3 linked regions of the Homo sapiens genome follow. The protein of the gene in region 3 purifies or fractionates together with the protein of the main gene of each other region. This does not show direct contact. Each region holds a gene or a part of one and is shown on either strand. Other genes may lie near its edges.

The links. The genes of interacting proteins can lie anywhere in the genome.
Region 1: the proteins of DDX17 (region 3) and DHX9 fractionate together in Homo sapiens (co-fractionation; 3 studies listed by BioGRID and IntAct, with this or other methods). This does not show direct contact.
Region 2: the proteins of DDX17 (region 3) and DROSHA purify together in Homo sapiens (co-immunoprecipitation; 3 studies listed by IntAct, with this or other methods). This does not show direct contact.

Annotation. Positions count from the first base shown.
Region 1 is NC_000001.11:182,842,347-182,849,346, reverse strand, and holds part of DHX9 (ATP-dependent RNA helicase A), read right to left. Parts: intron 6,803-7,000; 5' UTR 6,781-6,802; coding exon 6,670-6,780; intron 6,054-6,669; coding exon 5,913-6,053; intron 1-5,912. UniProt on the Homo sapiens protein: Multifunctional ATP-dependent nucleic acid helicase that unwinds DNA and RNA in a 3' to 5' direction and that plays important roles in many processes, such as DNA replication, transcriptional activation, post-transcriptional RNA regulation, mRNA translation and RNA-mediated gene silencing.
Region 2 is NC_000005.10:31,529,094-31,535,939, reverse strand, and holds the start of DROSHA (ribonuclease 3), read left to right. Parts: upstream 1-3,846; 5' UTR 3,847-3,950; intron 3,951-4,414; 5' UTR 4,415-4,490; intron 4,491-5,015; 5' UTR 5,016-5,142; intron 5,143-6,834; 5' UTR 6,835-6,846. Other genes in the region: UPF0489 protein C5orf22, read right to left, coding at 47-196, 889-981, 1,523-1,668, 3,467-3,547. UniProt on the Homo sapiens protein: Ribonuclease III double-stranded (ds) RNA-specific endoribonuclease that is involved in the initial step of microRNA (miRNA) biogenesis.
Region 3 is NC_000022.11:38,503,287-38,511,173, forward strand, and holds the start of DDX17 (probable ATP-dependent RNA helicase DDX17 isoform 1 precursor), read right to left. Parts: upstream 3,026-7,887; 5' UTR 2,952-3,025; coding exon 2,665-2,951; intron 1-2,664. Other genes in the region: DMC1 (meiotic recombination protein DMC1/LIM15 homolog), read right to left, coding at 6,007-6,142. UniProt on the Homo sapiens protein: As an RNA helicase, unwinds RNA and alters RNA structures through ATP binding and hydrolysis.

The sequences.
Region 1 (7,000 bases), on a different chromosome or scaffold from region 3:
GCTCCAAAATAATCTAAGAAAGGGGAGTAGTTAGAAATGAGTAAAATTGAAAGTGTTGCAGCCAGATGACGGAAACATGGAGTTTCACTATATTATTCTTTTATACACATCTACAATTGTCCACAGCAAAAAAAATTTTAAAATATCCTCTACATGCTCACTTTTGGCAAATGCAATTTATGGCATGAAAGGGTAAGTTCCAGATGAAATAAGTGATTATGAAAAAGGATTTCCCTAGAATGAGGAGGTAAGATAAAGATGGTAGCTGGTAACAGTTTGGTTACGTATCGCTGCCCAAATGTCATGTCAAATTTTAATCCTCAATGTTGGAGGTAGGGCCTGGTGAGAAGTAACTGGATCATGAGGTGGGTTTCTCATGCATGGTTTAGTACCACTTTCCTTGGTACTGCTATCCTAGCAACAGTGAGTGAGTTCTCATGAGATCTGGTCATTTAAAAGTGTGTGGCATCTTCCCCTTTACTTTCTCTTGCTCCTGCTATGTAGGACATCCCTGCTTCCCCTTCACCTTCTGCCATCATTCTAAGTTTACTGAGGCCTCTTCAGAAGTCAAGCAGATTCCAGTACCACACTTCCTGTAAAGCCTGCATAATTGTGAGCCAATTAAATCTCTTTTCTTTATAAATTATGCAGTCTCAGGTATTTTATAGCAATGCAAGAATGGACTAATAATACAGTGGGGTTAAAAGTAGAAATGGGTTGTTATAATTTTTTTTTCCAAATTCATCCATTCATTTACTCAGTCAACCAAAAAACATTTAAGTATCTGCTATAGACCAGGAACCATTCTAAATGTTGGAGACACAGCAACGAACTAAAAACAAAAAAATCCCTGCCCTCACGAACTTACATTCTAATACAATGAAACAAAAATAAATTACGTTGGAACAAGGTTTCTCATCTTGGTGACATTTTAGGCTGGTTAATTCTTTGTTGTAGGAGTTTGTCAAGTGCATTGTAGGTCATTAGCAGCATCCCTGGCCTTCACCTTCTAGATGTCAGTGGCCTCCTCGAGTTACAACAACAAAAATATCTCCATACATCCCCAAACATCCCTTGAGGGGACAAAATGGTCTCCAGTTGAGAAACACTGAGTTAAAAAGTAAGTGTTACGGAGAAAAATAAAGCATTGAAGGAGTTTAGGAAGTAACCTGAGGGTGACAATGTTTATAATGTTAAATAGGACAGCTGGGGAAGAGTCCTTCAGGTATAGAAGTTTTGAGGCAGAAAGATGAGGGCTTATTTGAAGACCTATGAAGAAGTACAGCTACTGTAGCTGGAACAGAGGAAATAAGGAAGAAAGTAGGAAATCCACAGAGCATTTAATAGGAAACACCTGAGCCATGTTAAAACAATAATAAAAAAATCACCTAGGGGATTACTTCTGGTTGTAGCCAAGTAAGTTCCTGTAAGACTGACCCTCCTGCAGGTAAAATAAACTTTAGGGGGAAAAAATACAAACACACACACAACACACCAGAACTATATGCAGGCAATAAAAAATGAACGAAAAAAGCAGGTAGATTCTTGAGAGAAGTTAAAATGGGGAAGCACGGAGTATCAAGGGTCTAATTCCAGTTTACTGTAGCTTTTAGCCTGAGAGAAGCCATCCCAGGCAGCTAAACCTCCAATGAAACCATCTTTTTGGCCTGAAGAATCAGAATTAGAGTTCAGGGAAAGCAAAGCTGCTAGAAAGTGAGGGAATGCTGGAAAGGAAACAGCCAGAGAGGAGGAGCCCCGAATTCTGTATATTGAAATCTCTGGCTAACCCTTGAAAACCACTCATGTACAGGGCAGATTCCAAGCTGCCCAGCAAAGGAGACCTGAAGGACTCTTCCATGGCTGTCCTAAATGATCAGAAAACTGAGGTGAGATCTGAGTTAACATCCAAAAGACAGCATTTGCAGTTTGAGTCCAGTTAAATTAAATGCCTGATTAAAAACAAAACAAAACAAAACAAAAAAACCAAATCAATGCTCTTTGGAGGAGTATAACATTATTCAGAGTCTCCACAGCATAATATTCCAATGCCCAGAATGCAATAAAAAATTATTTGATACACAAAGAGGAAAATGTGATCCAACCTCAAGAAAATATACCTATCAAGAGAATCCAACCCTGAGATGACTCAGATGTTAGTAGTAGTAGGCAAGGATTTTAAAGCAGCTATTAGAATTAAGCTTCATGACATAAAAGAAATCCATATTTATATTACAAACATACACTTATAACGAATGAAAAGAAATGCCACCAGAGAAAACATACAGAAAAGAATAAGCTGGAGATTTTAAAAGTGAAAAAGGTAGTGTCTGAAATACACTGGGTGGGCTTAGCAAAATGGAAGGGACAGAAAAAACTATCAAAGAATCTGAAGATAATCAATAAAAATTATTCAATTTGAGAAACAGTGGAAAAAATGATAGGAAAAAAAAAAGAGAGCCTCAGGGACCTGTGGGATATCAAGTCTTTATAAATATAAACACCAAGAGGAAAGAAGAAAAAATAAAACAAAAAATATCTTAAATAATAGCTAAGTCTCTCAAAGTTGGTGAAATACATAAATCTATGGATTCAATAATCTCAGCAAACCTTGAACAAGTTAGAACACACACATACAAAAAAACCCATGCCCGGTCACAACACAAAATACTAAAAACCAAAAATAACAGGAAAAGATCTTAAAAACACAGACTACCACATTACATATGGGAGAGAGTGATTTGATTATAGCTGACTTCTTACAGAAAACAGCAAGTAGACAGTGTCATATTATCTTTAAAGCCTATCTGGTCTCTGGCTGGACTCAGTGGCTCACGCCTGTAATCCCAGCACTTTGGGAGGCCAAGGCGGGCAGATAACCTGAGGTTGGGAGTTGGAGACCAGCCTGACCAACATGGAGAAACCCCGTCTCTACTAAAAATACAAAATTAGCCGGGCATGGCGGCACATGCCAGTAATCCCAGATACTCCTGCCTGAGGCAGGAGAATCGCTTGAACCCGGAGGCAAAGGTGGCGGTGAGCCGAGATCATGCCACTGCACTCCAGCCTGGGCAACAAAAGCGAAACTCCATCTCAAAAAAAAAAAAAAAAAGTACATCTGGTCTTCAATCCCATTTCCCTGGCATAGAAATCCTAAATCCTTATAATCTCCTAAGTGGAGACTTTCTGTATGCTAACGAGTTGACTGCTGGCTGGCAGGCCCTAGGTAGCTTCAGGTGTGGGGGGATGGTCACCAGAACCACCAAGGAAAGATTAGAGGGCTGAAACTTTCGGTCCCACCTCCCAGCCTCTGGGGAAGTGAGAAGGGCTGAAGGTCAAGTCACCAATGGCCAACGATTTAATCAATACTGAATAATGAAGTTTCCATAAAAACCAAAGGACAGGGTTTGGAGGGCTTCCAAATGGCCGAACAGGTGGAGGTTCCTGAAGAATGGTGTTCGAGGCAGGGCATGGGAGCTCCCTGCTGCCTCCGCCATATCTTGCCCTACTTATTTCACCAACTGTATTTTGTAGTATTCTTTATAATAAACTGGTAAATGTAGGTTTTCCTGAGTTCTGTGAGCCACACTAGCAAATTAACTGACCCCAAAGAGGCAGTCATGAAAACCATAACTTGAAGCTAGTCAGTCAGAAGTTCTAGAGGCCCAGACTTGCAAGTGGTGTCTGAAGGGGCTGGGGAGTCTTGTGGGACTGAGTCCTCACCCTGTGGAGTCTGACGCTATCTCCAGGTAGTGTCAGAGTTGAACTGGAGGATACCCTGCTAGTGACTGCTGCAGAACTGATTGCTTGCTTGGGGTGTGTGGAAAAAGTCCCCCACCTCCACCCCACATTTAGTCACAGAAATCTTCTTTGTTGATTGTTGTGGTATGAGAGAAGAGGAAAATTGTTTTTTTTTTTTTCCACTTACATACCAAAAGAGGGAAAAAAATATCTGGTACCCCAGAATTCTACATCCAGTGAAAATATTCTTAAAGAAGGTAAAATAAAAATATTTTCAGAAAGAGAATAAGAGAATTTGTCACTAGCAGATCTACAAGACCATAGAGAAGAGCCTAAAAGATAAAGAATAGAGGGAGACTTCAAACATGTAAAAGACATTTGCAAAACTGTTTTCTCTACCAGAAGGCATTTTTAAGATGATCTTGCCCAATCCCTTCATTTTACAGATAGGCAAACCAATAAAATTAAAGACTGTAAGATACTATAATTACCCAGCAGTTAATCTACCGGAAAGTAAGTCTATCGAGTTCTTAGTCAAAGGAATGGAAGGAAATAAGATTTCTTTCATAACGAGTCAGAATACTGTCATAAACAAGGCAGAATACAAAAATTCAGTAACAGGACCCTGTTAAAACTGGCATAGACAGGCTGGGCACAGTGGCTCACACCTGTAATCCCAGCACTTTGGGAGGCTGAAGGGGGCGGATCACTTGAGGTCAGGAGTTCAAGACAAGCCTGGCCAACATGGTGAAAATCTGTCTCTACTAAAAACACAAAAATTAGCTGGGCGTGGGCCAGGCGCCGTAGCTCCCACCTGTAATCCCAGCACTTTGGGAGGCCGAGGTCAGGAGTTCGAGACCAGCCTGGCAAAAAATGGTAAAACCCCGTCTCTACTAAAAATACAAAATTTAGCTGGGCATGTTGGCAGGTGCCTGTAATCCCAGCTACTTAGGAGACTGAGGCAGGAGAACTGCTTGAACCCAGGAGGTGGAGGTTGCAGTGAGCACTGCACTCCACCCTAGGTAACAGAGCAAGACTCCGTCTTAAAAAACAAAACAAACAAACAAACAAAAAAAACCTTATTTCTTAAAAACTACTAGAGCCTAGTGTAGCGGCACACACCCACAGTCCCAGCTACTGGGGAAGAGCTGAAGTGGGAGGATGGCTTGAGGCCAAGAGTTTGATTGAGCCCCAAAAAGAAAAAAGGCAGAAAAACAAAACAAAAATCCCCCAAAACAACCTACTAGACAGAGGTATTTGTTGCATACTTACGTAATATAATTAAGATAATCATGACATAAAAAACACAAAAATACTCCATTGCATAAAATACTATTTTGTTATATAAGGACATGTCAGCCAGGTGCAGTGGCCCATGCCTGTGATCCCAGCACTTTGGAAGACGGAAGTGGGTGGATGGATCACTTGAGGTCAGGAGTTCAAGACCAGCCTGGCCAACATGGTGAAACCCTATCTCTACTAAAAACATAAAAAATAGCTGGGCATCATGGAGCGTGCCTGTAATCCCAGCTACTCGGAGGCTGAGGCAGGAGAATCGCTTGAACCCAGGAGGCGGAGGCTGCAGTGAGCCGAGATCACTCCAGCCTGGGCGACAGTGCAAGACTCTGCCTCAAAACACAAAGAACTTGCCAGAAGTGGTGGCATGCACCTGTAGTCCAGCTACTAAGGGGGTTAAGGATGAAGGACTGCTTGAGCCCAAGAGTTTGAGGCTGCAGTGAGCTATGGTTGTGTCACTGCATTCTAGCTTGGGTAACAGAGCAAGACCTCATCGCTTACGGGGCAGGGGGAGTGTCAATGGGAGCAAACATGTCTAAAATATTACTGATTTTTCTATTTTATTTAAAGTATTATCATTGGTAATGAATGGAACATAACAGACTCTGAAATTTCTGGTGTATAAATACATGAAATAAAGCCATAAGACACAAAGATTAATGGAATTTCTCAAGCCCCTAAGACAGGTATATAATAAGGATGCAATCCACATCTTCAGAAATTTTGTCCAGTGCTGAGACAAAACAAGATGCCAAATTTCATTACGAAACACGATATATCTGAAAACAGTGAAAAATTACTATCTTGAGTCTCTTACGCATATTGAGTTTGTACAACTTTACAACATACATCTCAAGTGCTTCGCCATAGGTACTTACCCCAAAAGCTGGAACTTCTTCACTCTTTATTTCATTTATTCGAACCAAATAGTTAACAAAGTCTCTGGCAGCATTGCTTTGTGCATCTTTTTTATTGGTGGAATTTCCCATGCCAGTGTAATTATAACCTTCCACCTGAACCTTTAAAAAAAAAAAAAAGTACTAAGAGACTGACCTGGGTAATTCTGAGATTTTAAAAAGTCGTAATTCAGTAGTCCATTAAGAGACAACAAACAGCTAACTTTAGGAAATATACTCTATAAATATAAATATAAAAATAAGAGAATGCATGAGCTACTGAAAAAGCTTAAATTGTGTTGTATCCAAAAATAATTTAAGTGGCTCAGATTTTTTTTTCTCATATAACAGAAGGTTCACATTAAAATCTGATTCTGTAATATCCATGAACAAGCTCTCCATTTGTATTTAAGCACTTTGATTTGAAGCAATCAAGAATTGCTCTGCTTTCTAAACGTGCTTATAAAACTGCAAACAGTTGATCCAACTTTTCCCATCCCCACTACTGGTACTGAGGAAGCTGAGGAAGATATAGGCTCTAATTAGAATAATTTACCTGTCAGATTGTTTTAAAAGTAATGCTGACTTGAAAATGATTTACAATAGCAGTCAAGTCACAATAAAGAACTGTCGTTTCCTAATGTGCAACACATTAACATCTCCAAACAGAAAACATTTTTCTTTTAACCCCAAAATGAACCTCATAAATCACATAAATGCAAACTGTATTCTTCAGTACCTCACACATGAATTTCTGCCTGTTTTTGTTCCCCACTGCTCTAATTTCATAGGATGGGGTCATCTTCCTTTTGCCACACCAGGCATACAGAAAATTTTTAACGTCACCCATGATTCAAGTGTCTTCTTCAGATCTAAGAAAACAAAAGTCAGTTAAAAACAGCATTTATAATAGCAAAAACTGGGAGGAACCAATTATCTAGATTACTGAATCTGGGTTAAACATAGGATATTCTATCATGTTGCTATTAAGACTCCCCATAAATTTTAACGACATAATTGGAACGTTTATATGTTGTAAGAAAAAGGATACAAAACGGTATGATTTGAAC
Region 2 (6,846 bases), on a different chromosome or scaffold from region 3:
TAGAAACATTCAATCACTTCCATATTCACAAATATGAGGAAATTACCTGATTGTTGTGGTAGAAGTGTCTTTGCCTACTAAAAAGTGGTGTCTGCCCTCTCTGATCTGCTGAGCCCATGTGGGATGAAACCATATTACATGTGAAAAATGGCCAGCATAAACTGCAGGCATAATCCAATTTTCAATACTTAATTCTCTGGAAAAGAAACATAGAGACAACATTAAAACTTTTATTTTTATTTTTTCCCAAGTGTAATTTTATCCACAACATTTTAAGACCACAGGTCTCAAAGTGTGGTCCCTAGAGTGGTTCCTGAGACTTTTTCAGGGACATCACTATTACAAAACTATTTTCATGAAAATACTAAGGCATTATTTCCTGTTTTCATTTACTGACATTTGCAAAGATGGTGCAAAGGCACTGGTGGGTTGATGTTCCAACATTAATTAAGGCAGCAGCACCAAACTGTTAGTAGTTACTATATTCTTCATTACCAACCACTGCCAAAATAAATAAATAAATAAATATAAAAGTGTCATTCGAGAACATCTTGATTTTATTAAATTTCCATCCTGAGTATACATTTTTAAATATTATGTGTGGCAAAATGAGAAATGCACAGAAAGCTCTCCTGCTACATAGTTTGAAGCATAACAGTTGTCTCAAGGAAAAGCACTTGTGATTGAACTTTGAGGTGAACACCATTTATCTTGAAAGGAGTGGTCAAGAAACTATGGTTATTCACACTTGATACTGAATTGCTGAATTCTACATTTCAAATAAGCTTTAATAAACTACTACTTTTCAAGTTTTGGCGCACTATCAAAGAATATTCACAATTATCTAAAAAGGCTATCAAAATATTCTTTCCTTTTCCAATTACATGCCTGTGAAAGCCTGAATCTTCATCATATATTTCAACCAAAACAGCATATGGCAATGGACTAAATGCAGAAATAGACGTGAGAATCCAATGGTCTCTATAAAGGCAAATATTAAAAGGATTAAACATTGGCTAGGCTGTTTTTGTAAACAAAGTTTTTTTGGTTTGTTTCTTTTAAGAGATGGGGTCTGGTTATGTTGCCCAGTCTGGAGTGCAGCAGCTATCCACAGGCTTTGATCACAGCCTGGAACTGCTGGCCTCAAGTGATCTTCCCACCTTAGCTTCCTGAGTAGCTGGGACTACAGGCTCATCCACCATGCCCAGCTTGTAAATAAAGCTTTATTGGAACACAGCTACTGTCATTTGTTTACACAGTGCTTGTGATTGCTTTCACACTACAAAGGCAAAGATTAATAGTTGCAACAGAGACCATATAGCCAGCAAACCTAAAATATTTGCTAATCTGGCTCTTTAAGAAAGTTGTCAACACTTGTTCTAAATAAAATGAAAAAGACAAAAAGACAAACAAAAAACCCCCAAACCCATGAGTTTAGCAAAGTCTATTTCCTATAATTGCTTATTATCTACTGCAAATTGTACTTCAAACACAAAAGACCATAAATAAAATCACATATTACCCAAAGAGTGTTTCCTTATCAAACACGGTGTCTGCTGGCATATTCACAGGAATAAGGAGGTCTGGATGTGAGTCGAAATGTAAAAAACTTACATTACTGGCAGGAAGATGCTTTGAGCCTATGGCCCGGTATATAAAGGGTAGAACCTGTAAAAGACACAGGCACACAATAAGAATTAACACTGAAACCATGAGCACACACTCAACTGCAGACTGAAAAACAATGCTAAATAATGCACATAATTGAAAGCATACTATGTTGCTGTAAAGTGGAAAAACATAAAATTTGTTTACTGTAGATGGTGCAGATGATAATCTCAAGCATTACTTTGTCCTCAGAACTTCCAACCTGCATCTCCAGCGGCCTTCCTGCTGCCCCCTTGAACTCAACAGGTCATGTGGGGAAACAGACCAGGACTGGGGCTCAGGAACAAACTACCGCTTAATGCCTGTTCTAACATTAACTAGGTGTTCAAGGTACCCTAGGTCTCAAAGTATTCTTTTTTTTCCTTTAAAAAGGGATAGGGGCTTGTCAGTTGCCCAGCCTGGAAAGCAGTGGTGTGATCATGGCTCACTGCAGCCTTGGACTCCTGGGTTCACACGATCCTCCCACCTCAGTCTCCTGAGTAGCTGGGATTACAGGCACGCACCACTACGCCCAGCTAATTTTTTCACTTCTATTTTTGTAGAGATGGGATTTCGCTCTGCTGTCCAGGCTGGTTAGGGTCTTTTTGGTACACTTAGAATGGTGGGGTTGGGCTAGGTGGTCTATAAAGGCCATTTCTCCTCTTACATCTTCTCTAATTCTAGGTTTAATACCTAATTTGAAAGCACCGTCTAACCTAGGCTTTCTCATTCTCTCAAGGTCATAGACACTATATCCAGGTCCTGAGAAACCTATCTTCCTCTCCTATTAGCTGTCACCAACAGTAAATCCCTCTTCTTTTTTAACGTCCAGAGAACTGCCTCCCATCCCAAGCCTACTGATGCTACTTTAAAACATATTTATTAGATCCATGGGCCTCCTTTGTTGACTTGGAAAAGTCTAGATTAAGACACCAATTTGGCTACTGTAAATCAGCACGGCCATAAACATGGAAACCCCTTTTAGTGTTTATCTATGCAGGGCACCGTGTTAAATTTTTTTTTTTTTTTACGCAATATGGGCCGTGCGCAGTAGCTCACGCCTGCAATCCCAGCACTTTGGGAGGCCGGCGGGGGCCGATCACGTGAGGTCAGACTTTCAGACCATCCTGGCTAACGTGGCGAAGCCCCGTCTCTACTAAAAATACAAAAATTAGCTGGGTACGGTGATGCGTGCCTGTGATCCCAGCTACTCAGGAGGCTGAGACAGAAGAATCGCTCGAACCCAGGAGGCGGAGGTTGCAGTGAGCCGAGATCGCGCCACTGCACTCCAGTCTGGGTAACAGAGAGAGACTCCGTCTCAAAAAAGAAAAAAAAAAGATTTTTAAACACAGTATGCACACAATAATACTCCTAAGAGCCCTGTGAGTCCTACGATTACTGTCCCCATTTCAGATCAGAGCCCACGTTCCAAGCATAAAGCCTCCCATCTAAACAGCAGGGCTGTGGTGGCGATTCCAGGAGATACTTGGAAGCCAGAGTTAACTGCAGGTTAAGAACACAGGGCTCTGCAGCCAGACTGTCCGGTTTCGAATCCCGATGCCACCTTTTGTTTGGTTCTGGGATTTGGGGGCAAACCGAGGTAAATAAGTTGCCCCGACTCGTAGGAAGCGCCCATAAATGTCAGTTCTCATTCTTCCTAGTTAGCTGTTTTGGGGTCCTCTCCACAGCAACGGAATAGGGCAGTTTAACTCTGGTTAACTCTCTGGCCTCCGATGCTAAGGTTGCGCCCTCTGCTTGGCCCTCTGAGCGTCAGGGCTTCCGCTGATTCTGCCCCAGAGCCCTGTTGCCGTCCGCTCACCTCCTGATGATCCTCCACCACCCACACTGGGAGCTTGGGGTAACGCCGGAGACCAGCGCGCCCTCCCGCGGAGTCACTCATGTTTTTGCGCCCGTCAGTTTTGCAGTAAAGCGGTGGCAGCTGGAGAAGACCCGGGAAAGCCGGCGCCTCATCCCGGCCAGCTCTCTCCGGGCGGAAGCGCTCCCTCACCCGGTTGCGTTTTCGGATTGGAGGACGTAGGGGGAGGGGGCGCGGGCTCCAAAGGGTCTTTTGCTGACGATTGGTCTAGACGTCCATCGCTTTCGTTGACGCGCCAATCACCGCGCACAAGGCCCTGCGGTGGGCTGAAGAGTTTTCCCTCCCTTGGCCCAGCTTTCTCAGGTTTGCTTTTTAATTCCCTCGGTTTCCTGTTCCGGAGGCGCGGGCGGTGCCACTGTCTTGGTACCTGCGGTAGTAGCCTGGCTTTGCTCTGACGGCGATCTCGCGGCCCGAGAGCCTTTTATAGGTAAAAGGGGTACCTTGCAAGTGTTAGAAGAGAGTTTCCGAGTGTCAGGATTTAAACGGGGCTGGAGTCTCCGGGGCTGGGGTGAAAAGCGTCCGGGAATTGGGGTCGGGCAGCCCCACTTCAGATCTGCAGCTAAGGGCAAAAGAGCGACGCTAGGCCTGGATCCCGCAAATAAGTGGAAGTGAAAAAGGAGACCTTTCATTCATTTGTGGAGCACACACTATGGTCCAGGCCTGGGGCCGCCCGGCTCTCGGAGGGGAGTGAGATCCTGAGCTCAGCGCCTGCCTCGTGGGGCGTACCGTCTGGCGGGAGATGCAAACAGTAAATGTGCAGTTATGGATCAGGATGAAGGTGACTGCCCTGCAGATCCACCTGGGGAAAGAGGGAGTTCTCAATAAAAATGTAGTCACACTTTAAAATTCTTTTTACATGCACTGACGTTCTGGCCGTGTTAACTATTCAAGACAGCTCCTTCAGTGTCTCTGTTTCCAAACCGCAACCGAGAAGAGACAGACGGAGAAAAGAGAGTTACTTTTCCAGGTGCAGTGAATTCCTTGACTTTTGAATTAAAGTCTGCATCCACAACACAGCCGGACTATGCCTTCAATAGGTCAATTTCATGATTAGTATTTTTAGATTTTCTAACTACTGAAACATCCATGAGGATCTGGCAGTGAATGTTCAGCTCTTGTTACACACTGTACAAGAGTGTTCGTGACCCTGACTTTTGCCCACCTCTAGGTGCGGCACACACCTTTGTGTTCCCCTAAGCCCTGCACATACCTCTTTTTTGTGTGTTTATTGCATTATTTTGTATTTTTAAAACACTTACTTGTACGTGGGTTCTGAGTTCCTTGAATCCTACAGGCTGTGTGTCTTATTATCTCTGAGTCTACAGGGCCTGGGACAGTGCTTCCCATTTATGGGCTCATTAAATATTGCATGACTCAGTGAAAAGGCCTGCTTTCTGTTGCGGAGGTACATGGAAGGGAAATGTACAGTAGCAACATGGAAACATACTATTGGTGAGAGAGTAAACATTTATTGACCACCTACTGTGTGTAGGTTGCTTTTCCCGGGGATGTGAAGGATACAGAAATGACTGTGAATCAACCCATATCATCAAGGAGCTGATAATCTAGTGGAAGAGTTAGACGTGTGCATACTTCACTATGATATGAGGCAGTCTCTGGTAAGTGCTGTAAAAGGATTAAGTATAGACTAAGTCTAGAGGGAATGGGATTACCTAAGGGAATCAGGAAGGGCTTCATAGAGGAGGTGGCATTTAAGATTGATAGATGGATAGAAAATCACTGGGCAGATTCATACGTTGGGAGATTTTTTTTTTTTTTTTTTTTTGAGCTAGAGTTTCGCTCTTGTTGCCCAGGCTGGAGTGCAATGGCGCGATCTGAACTCACTGCAACCTCTGCCTAGGGTGGGAGATTTTAGAGAGGAGAACGGGAGCAAAGAACTAGCTGGTTCTTTGTACTCGAATGGTAATCTGTTGGGAAAACATGGGGTAGTAGGGTCTTTCTGGGGAAGGTACTGGAGAACAAGCCTGGGTCCAGAGTCAATAGAGCCTTAAATGCCAAGCACAGAGGTTGAACTTGATTCTGTTGGCAGTGAGTAGCCTATGGTGGCAGGAGCACCTGTCCGGGCCCCAGGTTTATCATGAGGGTACTGGACTGGATAATAGTAATAAGGAGTCAGGCGCAGTGACTCACGCCTGTAGTTCCAGCTATTTTGGAGGCTGAGGTGAGAGGATTGCTTGAGCCCAGGAGTAAGAGACAGCAGTGAGCTATGATTGCACCACTGCACTCCAGCTTAGGGACAGAGTAGACTTTGTGTCTTAAAAAAAAAATCAGATATTATTTGGTGCCTATTATTTATTAAGCACACTGACTGCTAGCATAATCTGAAATTATTTTCATGAGCCATTTGAAAGTCTACATAGTAAAGTTCTATTGATGAGACTTTTAGAAAGACTTTCAGAAAATGTTTCTATGTTACAGCTTTTTGTACTCAATATTTATGTGAGTTTTTAAAAAATGTTTTGCTGAAGTTCAAGTATTTGGAAAATCATTCATGTTTACAGTGTTTTTATGTGGGAGGAACTGAGAATGAAAATTAAGAATCATTAACTGGTGTGTTAACAAGATTCTGGTTATGTTTGAATTTGAATGCTGGTCTCACTGTGATTTTTGTGTTTGGTCTATGCCTACATGGTTTGTTTTTTTTTTTGTTTTTTTTTTTTTGTTTGTTTTTTTGAGACTGTCGCCCAGGCTGGAATGCAGTGGCGCCATCTCGGCTCACTGCAAGCTCTGCCTCCCAGGTTCATGTCATTCTCCTGCCTCAGCCTCCCGAGTAGCTGGGACTACAGGCGCCCACCACCACGCCCGGCTAAGTTTTTGTATTTTTAGTAGAGACAGGATTTCACTGTGTTAGCCAGGATGGTCTCCACCTCCTGCCCTCGTGATCCACCTGCCTCGACCTCCCAAAGTGCTGGGATTACAGGCGTGAACTACCATGCCCGGCCTATGCCTACCTGTTTTTACCATGAAGGAAACGAGAGTATGAAGGGGGAGAGGGGAAATGATATTTTTCCCAAGTCTTTTAACAAATTAGAGATGATCTATGCCTATAAGTCTTTTTAGCTGCTGATAGTTTTGAGTTGGCAAAACTAGTAATAATGACATTTTAAAATTTAAGGACATTAAAAATTTAGTTGGAAACTTTAACACAGTTCAACATGCTTTTAATTTTGTTTGTAGGCTAAGTGTATTGGAAACTACAAAATTAGTGTTATGGTAATTGCAGAAATATTTTGTAGCATTGGCAGTTTGGGAAACATGTTTATGTCTGTTTTATTCTTTCTGTTTTTTAGAGCTTATATTCT
Region 3 (7,887 bases):
TCACTCTTGCAAATTATAAAAGACTTCATTGTTATTGCCACATTGCAATGCTACCCAAACCTTAGTGACTTAGGAAAAAATAAAACTTGAAAGTAAGATTCCTGTTAAGGCTTTAAACTGATGATTATCATTCATGTATTTTTTTTTCCTCTCTCCTTACTTCCCTGGCTATTTATTCAAGACATTCTATTCTACACTAAACATTTAATTTGAAACATGTGGTTCTTGGAAAATATGCCGTCTTCCATGTTTATAATTAATGCTGACATAATTAATGACCTCAAAATTCAAGAAAGCCTTTTACTTTTGAGCATATCCATGCCATCTTTAAATACGCACACTGTACTCTCTGGTATACTATGCTGCTCAAATGTTTTTATCCGGTCAGTAATTAGTTTAATTTGGCTTTACAAAAAAATTCACCTTTGAAGTCATATATTAACATTAAAAACCATACTACTTCAAATGTACAATGCCTATCATTTTTGCATCACACATGTGAAATACATGAACTGACCTCACCTATTCCTTTTTCAAAATAACCACCACTTCAACTGTGTAACACTCAGTTGAAACAACAGCAATTCAAATAATCAAGAACATTTCTTGGGAAAGGGAGAGTTGGGGCACAGATCTTATGAAAGAAGGCTAGTTCGTTTGAAATTTTTAAAAAATGTCATCTGATACTCAAAGTATGGATCAGTAATTCACTTTTTTCCTTTCAAATAACTTATTAAAGCATATATATGGTGAAAGGAAATATTAAACCAAACACCAATGGTAAAGAAATAGAACACTATTAGTAACTTGTAGCCCCTCTATGTGCCTATTTCAAGCTTACAACTTTCACCCTAATAACCACTACCTTGAATTTTGTTAACCACTCCCTTTCCTATCATATTTGCACATATCCTTAATTAAATGTGTCACCCTACCACAACGTGCTTTTTAACTCAACACTTCTGTGACTTATCCACATTAATCCAAGTTCTTTTCTCTTTTTCACGGCTGATTCAATTGTACGAATACCCACAATTTATGGAGACATTTGCGTTGTTTCCAATATCCTGTTAGCACGAATGCTGGTATATAAACTTTTCTGTACAAGGATCCTGGGGTACCTGTGCAAGGATTTCTCTAGGCATTACAGTCTAGGGTATAAAGCTTAGGGAGGAATTGCTGGGTCGTTTTCAACTTTCCTAGATAATCTCAAGTTCTTTTTCTAAGTCAATGAACTGAAATTCACTTCTAAACTTAGCAATACTGTCACACGCGAAGCAAACATTCCACCTCTCATCCTCTAAACAATGAGATAAAATATTTTCCTTCCTAATAAGGTATAAATCAAAATAATTTTGTAAAAAGTGGCAACTGAAGTGCTTGAGACTAGTAAATCCAGCAGTTGTGGATCTGAACCACAAAAGACAAAAACGTTTGGAGAAAATATCGTTAACAGAGCGCCTACTACAGTGAGACTATTACATCCATTATCTCTTAATTCCTGACAACACAGCAAAGTAAAGGCAATTATCACGTTCCTCAGAGGAAACAGGCTCACAAAAGGTAGGATCTTGACCAAGGTCACACACACACATATCAAGTGGCGTCACGTAACTCTTTGGGGAAGCGGGGGGGTCGGGGGAGACGGAGTTTCGCTCTTGCCACGGGCTGGAGTGCAATGGCGCGATCTCGGCTCACTGCAACCTCCTCCCCCCGGGTTCAAGCGATTCTCCTGCCTTGGCCTCCCGAGTAGCTGGGATTACAGGCATGCGCCACCAAGCCAGGCTAATTTTGTTATTTTTAGTAGAAACGGGATTTCTCCATGTTGATCAGGCTGGTCTCGAACTCCTGACCTCCGGTGATCCGCCCGCCTCGGCCTCCCAAATCGCTGGGATTACAGGCCTGAGGCACCACGCCCGGTCCACAATACCAAGAACTTTCTAGCGAGGCAGAATAGTTGACGCTGCAGTCCAATTAGAGAAAAAAGGCTGAAATATTAAGATTAAAACTAAAGTAACGACCCAAAAACCCATCCTTCCCCCAAACACGGTCATTTAGATGGCAAGCAACTCCACTGCTTTACATCCCAATGCATTTCCTCCGACTTAAAATATAACTGAAGAGAATTAAAATCTATTTCTAAAAATGAGAAGTTGGTCTTTTCGTCTCCCGTGCCTTAAACAGTGAACTCTGGGGAGAGAACGTCAAGGGTGCCATTTCGTGTAAGGCTTTCCTGGGCTGAAGTGTTCTCTCAGGAAGATCCGCGTTTTTCAGATGAACGCCGAGGCCTGGAGACATCGAACAGCCCGCCCGAAGCGGCCCGGCTCGAGAGCCGGGAAACCAGGCGAGGCGCCAAAGCCCGGGCCTGGGCTGATGCGGCCAGGCCGCCCCTCCCGATCCCCCGCGGGGCTGGGATGGGGCCGGGCCGCGCCACGACGGCCGTCCGCACGGAGAGGCCCAGCGTCGCCAAGCGGCCGCCCTCCTCGGGTCCCGAGTGACCCCGGGGCCGAGGTCCGCGCACGAAACCGCTGTCTCGCCTCGAGTCGCCTCCCCTCGCCTCCCGGGTCGAGAGCAAGGCTCCCAGGCTCGCAGTCCGCCGGGCCTCCCCAAGAAGCAACTCCCCCACCCCCACGCCAGGCCTCTCCTCTCCTCCCCCACCCTTACCCTCCACGGTCACGATCCCGGTCCCGGTCCCCAAAGCCTCCTCCGCGCATGGTCCCAAAAGGATAGAGATCTGGGAGCGGGGCACGGATGGCCGGGCTCGGGAGGGCCTGCGGCTCCGGTCTGGTGACGACCGATGGCGGCGGCGCCTCCGCTGTTGGGGCGGCGGCAGGCGCAGCGCTCTCTCGCTCCGACGCGCTGTCTCCCGTCGCAGACGCCACCGTCGCCGCCTCTCTCGTCGGAGACGGGAGCAAAACACAGAGAATCGGGGCTACAAAGCCGGTGGGCAGGTTTGGCTACGCTCAAACCGGGCAGTGCCGCGGTTTAGGCGTCTCCTTCCTTCCCAGCGACTGCACAAAATGGCGGCCGCCGCTGAGTCGGCTCCAACTTAACGCTGCGTACGGCGGAGACGATACGTAAACAGCGCCTCGGAATAGCCCGAGGGCTCCGCGGGGAACTACGGGTATTCTTGGAAGCACTTTACGTCAGTTGCGACGATGGGTGTATTTTGCGGTCTGTACAAGAAAAACAAAGTACGGAGCGAGCGTAGAGTTCTCGCGCCACCCGAACTAGAACGTGGGATGAGGTGGGAGGAAGCGCCTCTGGTGCGACGTAACATTCTTTGCGTCGTTAGCCGGCCTGCTGTTGCTAAGATGCGCAGTATGCGTAACGCATTCTGTTTAGAGAATAGAGGATTTTGCCTGATTCCGATCTCGGTACAGACCCCGCGGCCGGCTTGAAGAAGTTGCTTTGCAGAGACAATAACCGTCCTCCATATTGTTATCAAGTTTCAGAGTCCTCTGGCGCCAGAGGCCGGGAGGGTCTTAAATTCCGTGGCTGGCCTTCCTATATGGCGCCGCCAGCCCTCTCGCCCCACCGCCCTGGGCCCGCTGAGAATGGCGGCGGGCCCCGGCGCCATTTCCTTTCCGTTGCCTTTCGCTGCTCTGTCTCCGGCAGCCATGATGGAAGAGCCGTGTCCCTTTCTTTCCGGAGTTTGTGAGGTGGCGATGTCCCTTCCAGGTTAAAGTGCCCTCAGCTACATTTGGTTCACACTGAGGTGCATTTTCTGAACCGTATATTTTTACCGTCCCTGGCCGAGCACAGCTGTTGCTAATACAGAAACAAAATGTGCTTGGAGGCCAGGCATGGTGGCTCACGCTTGTAATACTAACACTTTGGGAGGCCGAGGCGGGAGGATCACCTGAGTCCCGGAGTTCGAGACCAGCCTGGCCAAAATGGCAAAACCCCGTCTCTACGAAAAATACAAAAATTAGCAGGACATGGTGGCGGGTGCCTGTAGTCCCAGCTACTTGGGAGGCTGAGGCAGGAGAATCGCTTGAACCCGGGAGTCGGAGGTCGCAGTGAGCCGAGAACGTGCCACTGCACTCCATCCTGGACGACGGGGCAAGAATCCGTCTCAAAAAAAAAATTGCTTGGAGCCCCAGTGGACTCCGTGGGCCCTTTGCTGCCGTTGAACGGCGCTCCTCAGAAGGCCCGGAGAAGACCCCAGCACTCTCAGGAGAACAAGGTTTCAGAGCGATGGTCTTTAGACACAGAAAGGGCGAAGGCTAAGGACAAGTGTTTAACCAGGCTAGTCCACGTTCTCCGCTCAATTCCTTCCAGACTGGCTTCCCTCTCCTTACCTGCTTCCTGTCGTCTCAAACTGCATTTTGAAGCCCCGCAAGCTTGGCCAAATGGCGTCACACGACTGTTGAGCTGTTAGGGCCCTCGAGACGGGCCCATCTAACGTCTCAATTCAACAGATGGGTAGAAGCGGGGAGATTTGGCCCCTCAGTGTGGGTGCTGAGTGTTTGTTTCCCAAATTTTTGGGAACATAGCATAAGAAAAGGAGCTTCAAAAAGAAAAAAAACATGGACCACTGATTTTTCTGTGGTTATGTGTTCTTTTTCCCCAAGTACGTTCTTAACATTGGCAAGTGAACCTCTTAAAGTGATTGAGACTCGCCTGGGTCATATTCTTTTTCTTTTTTTTGTCTGGAGTGCAGTGGCACAATCTCGGCTCACTGCAACCTCTGCCGCCCGGGTTCAGGCAATTCTCCTGCCTCAGCCTCCCGTGTAGCTGGGATCACAGGTGCTTGCCCTCGCACTTGGCTAATATTTGTAGTTTAGCTGGGGTTTCACCATCTTGGCCAGGCTGGTCTTGAACTCCTGACCTCGTGATCCACCCGTGTCGACCTGCCAAAGTGCTGGGATTACAGGCGTGAGCCACCGCACCGGCCTGGGTCATGTTCTTTTATTTACACTGTTAACCTGCCCCAATCCTCATCATCTCTTGCCTGGATGACTGCGCTCGCCTCTTTTTAATCTGCCTGCTCCTGTCCTTGCTCACTCTGAATTTATTCTTCACACTGCAGTCATAGGGGTCCTTTTATTATGTCACTTTACTTAAAATTTTCCAGAGGTTTCCACTTGAAAGAAAAGACAAAGGCCTTACAGTGGCCTACAAGCCCTTGAGGATGCAGCCCTCTTCTGTCTTTCCTCCTTGTTCTACTCTAGCCACACTCGGCCTCAGGGCCTTTGCACTCGCTCTTTACTCTATGTCAGCAAGGCTAGATACCTCAGTTTAGGTCTGTGCTCACATGTCACTCAATCAGGGAGGCCTCCCCAGAACCCAATGCAACACTGCATAACCTGCATACTCTCCTCCTTCACAAGTACACATGCATTCTCTCTTTTCCATTTTTCTTTGCTTTCATTTGAATTAGTAACTGCTTGACATAAACACTTTTTGTCTCCCTCCTAGAGCGTAAAATCTGTGAGTGCAGGAACTTACTTGTTCACCACCGTGACCCAGTGCCTACCTGGCACAGTGCCTGACCTTTTAGCCATTCGACCACGCCATACCCTTGTCCAGTGAGTCTGTGACTGTCCCTTTGTGTTTCTGGGCCAACTGACATCTCAACGGCTTTTGTTTTTTGAGACAGAGTCTCGCTCTGTCGCCCAGGCTGGAGTGCAGTTGGCTCACTGCAACCTCCGCCTCTTGGTTTCAAGCGATTCTCCTGCCTCAGCTTCCTGAGTAGTTGGGATTACAGGCATACGCCACCACACCTGGCTAATTTTTGCATTTTTAATAGAGACAGGGTTTCACCATGTTGGCCAGGCTGGTCTGAAACTCCTGAATTCAGGTGATCTGCCTGCTTCGGCCTCCCAAAGTGCTGGGATTACAGGCGTGAGCCACCTTGCCTGGCCTTTGTCATCAACTTTTATTTTAATTCTGGGGTACATGTTCAGGATATACAAGTTTGTTACACAAGAAAACGTGTGTCATGGTGGTTTGTTGCACAGATCAACCCCTTGCCTCGGTATTAGGCCCAGCATCCGTTAGCTATTCTTCTCGATGCTCTCCCTCCGCCGACCCCCAACAGGCCCCAGTATGTGTTGTTCCCCCGCTCCATGTGTCCGTGTCCTCTTCTGGGTCTTTGATAGTCTTCACTGATGCTTTCTGCTCACGCTCAGATAATCTGCATTTTCACGTAAGATAAAATAATCATAGAGCAGAGGCAGCAGTCAGCTATGTGTTTGTTTCAGGCGAGCAGAGGGATGACTTTTTAGTTTTGTCCTTTGTCCTGTGCTTGTGATGGTAAACCATCAATGTACATTGTCGGGGTGAAATTCAACGGAACTGTTTTAGTGTAAAGATCTTGGAGGCCCACAAGGAATTTCTTTGTGGGCAAATTGTGAGAGGCCTATGTAGCTTTTTTTGTTTTTTGTTTTTTTTTAGAGACAGAGTCTCACTCTGTCGCCCAGGCTGGAGTGCAATGGCGCGATCTTGGTTCACTGCAACTTCTGCCTCCTGGGTTCAAGCAATTCTCCTGCCTCAGCCTTCTGAGTGGCTGGGATTACAAGCATGCGACATGACGCTAATTTTTATATTTTTTAGTAGAGACTGGCTTTTGCCATTATTAGCCAGGCTGGTTTTGAACTCCTGACCTCAAGTGATCCACCCACCTTGGCCTCCCAAAGTGCTAGGATTACATGGCCACCGCATCTGGCCTTCATTATATATTACGGTGTAATAATAATATAAATAGGCCGGGCCTAATAGAAATAGTCTGGCTAACATGATGAAACCCCGTCTCTCCTAAAAATACAAAAAAATTAGCTGGGCGTGATGGCGCATGCCTGTAGCTACTCAGGAGGCTGAGGCAGGAGAATCGCTTGAATTGGGGAGGTGGAGGTTGTAGTCTTAAAAATGGTATTTACAGGCTGGGCACAGTGGCTGACGCCTGTAATCTCAGCACTTTGCGGGGCTGAGGTGGGCAGATCACTTGAGGTCAGGAACTCGAGATCAGCCTGGCCAACATGGTGAAACCCCGTCTCTACTAAAAATACAAAAAATTAGCCAGGTGTGATGGTGGGCGCCTGTAATCACAGCTACTCGAGAGCCTGAGGCAGGAGAATGGCTTGAACCCAGGAGGCGGAGGTTGCAGTGACCCAAGATGGCACCATTGCACTCCAACCTGAGCGACAGAGCAAGACTCTGTGTCTAAAAAGACAGAAAAAAGAGAAGTTTCCTCTAGAGCGCTGAATGACAAGAGACAATGTGGAGAGAGAAGTCTCATACTTACAAGTATATCCTGCCAAGACCCCAGATATACAAGTGAGGCCATCCCAGACCCTTCAGCCAGCCTACTAGCTGAATGTAGCTGCGTGAGTGAGCTATTTCCTTCCTCCCCGCAAAATCCCTTATCTTTTTCTTCATGTTTTCATCTTAGGATATGAAAAGGAAACTGCTGTAGTTGTTTTTTAACCATGAAGGGAACTTTTGGAGAACAGAACCAGCACACCGAAGGTGGGGAAAGTGGAGAGAAGGAAAGAACCTGGGCCCTTGATGACATTATAGAGTCACTGTATTAGCCAACTGTGGAGCTGGTTGACTTCTGGACTTCTTATTTGAAATGACATGCTTCCTCATTGTTTAATCTACTTTTTTGAGCTTTGTGTTACTTGTAGCTGAAAGCATTCTAACTGATACACTCCTCAACCAGCTCTTCTAATACAAGTACAAAATCTGAAACAAGTCAGGCATGGTGGCATGTGCCTATAGTCCCAGCTACTTGGGAGGCTGAGGCGGGAGGGTCGCTTGAGCCCAGGCATTTGAGGTTGCATTGAGCTATGATTGTGCCACTGCACTCCAGCCTGGGTGACAGACTGAGACCCCATCTGTAAAACAAACAAACAGAAAATCTGAAACACCTTGCATAGT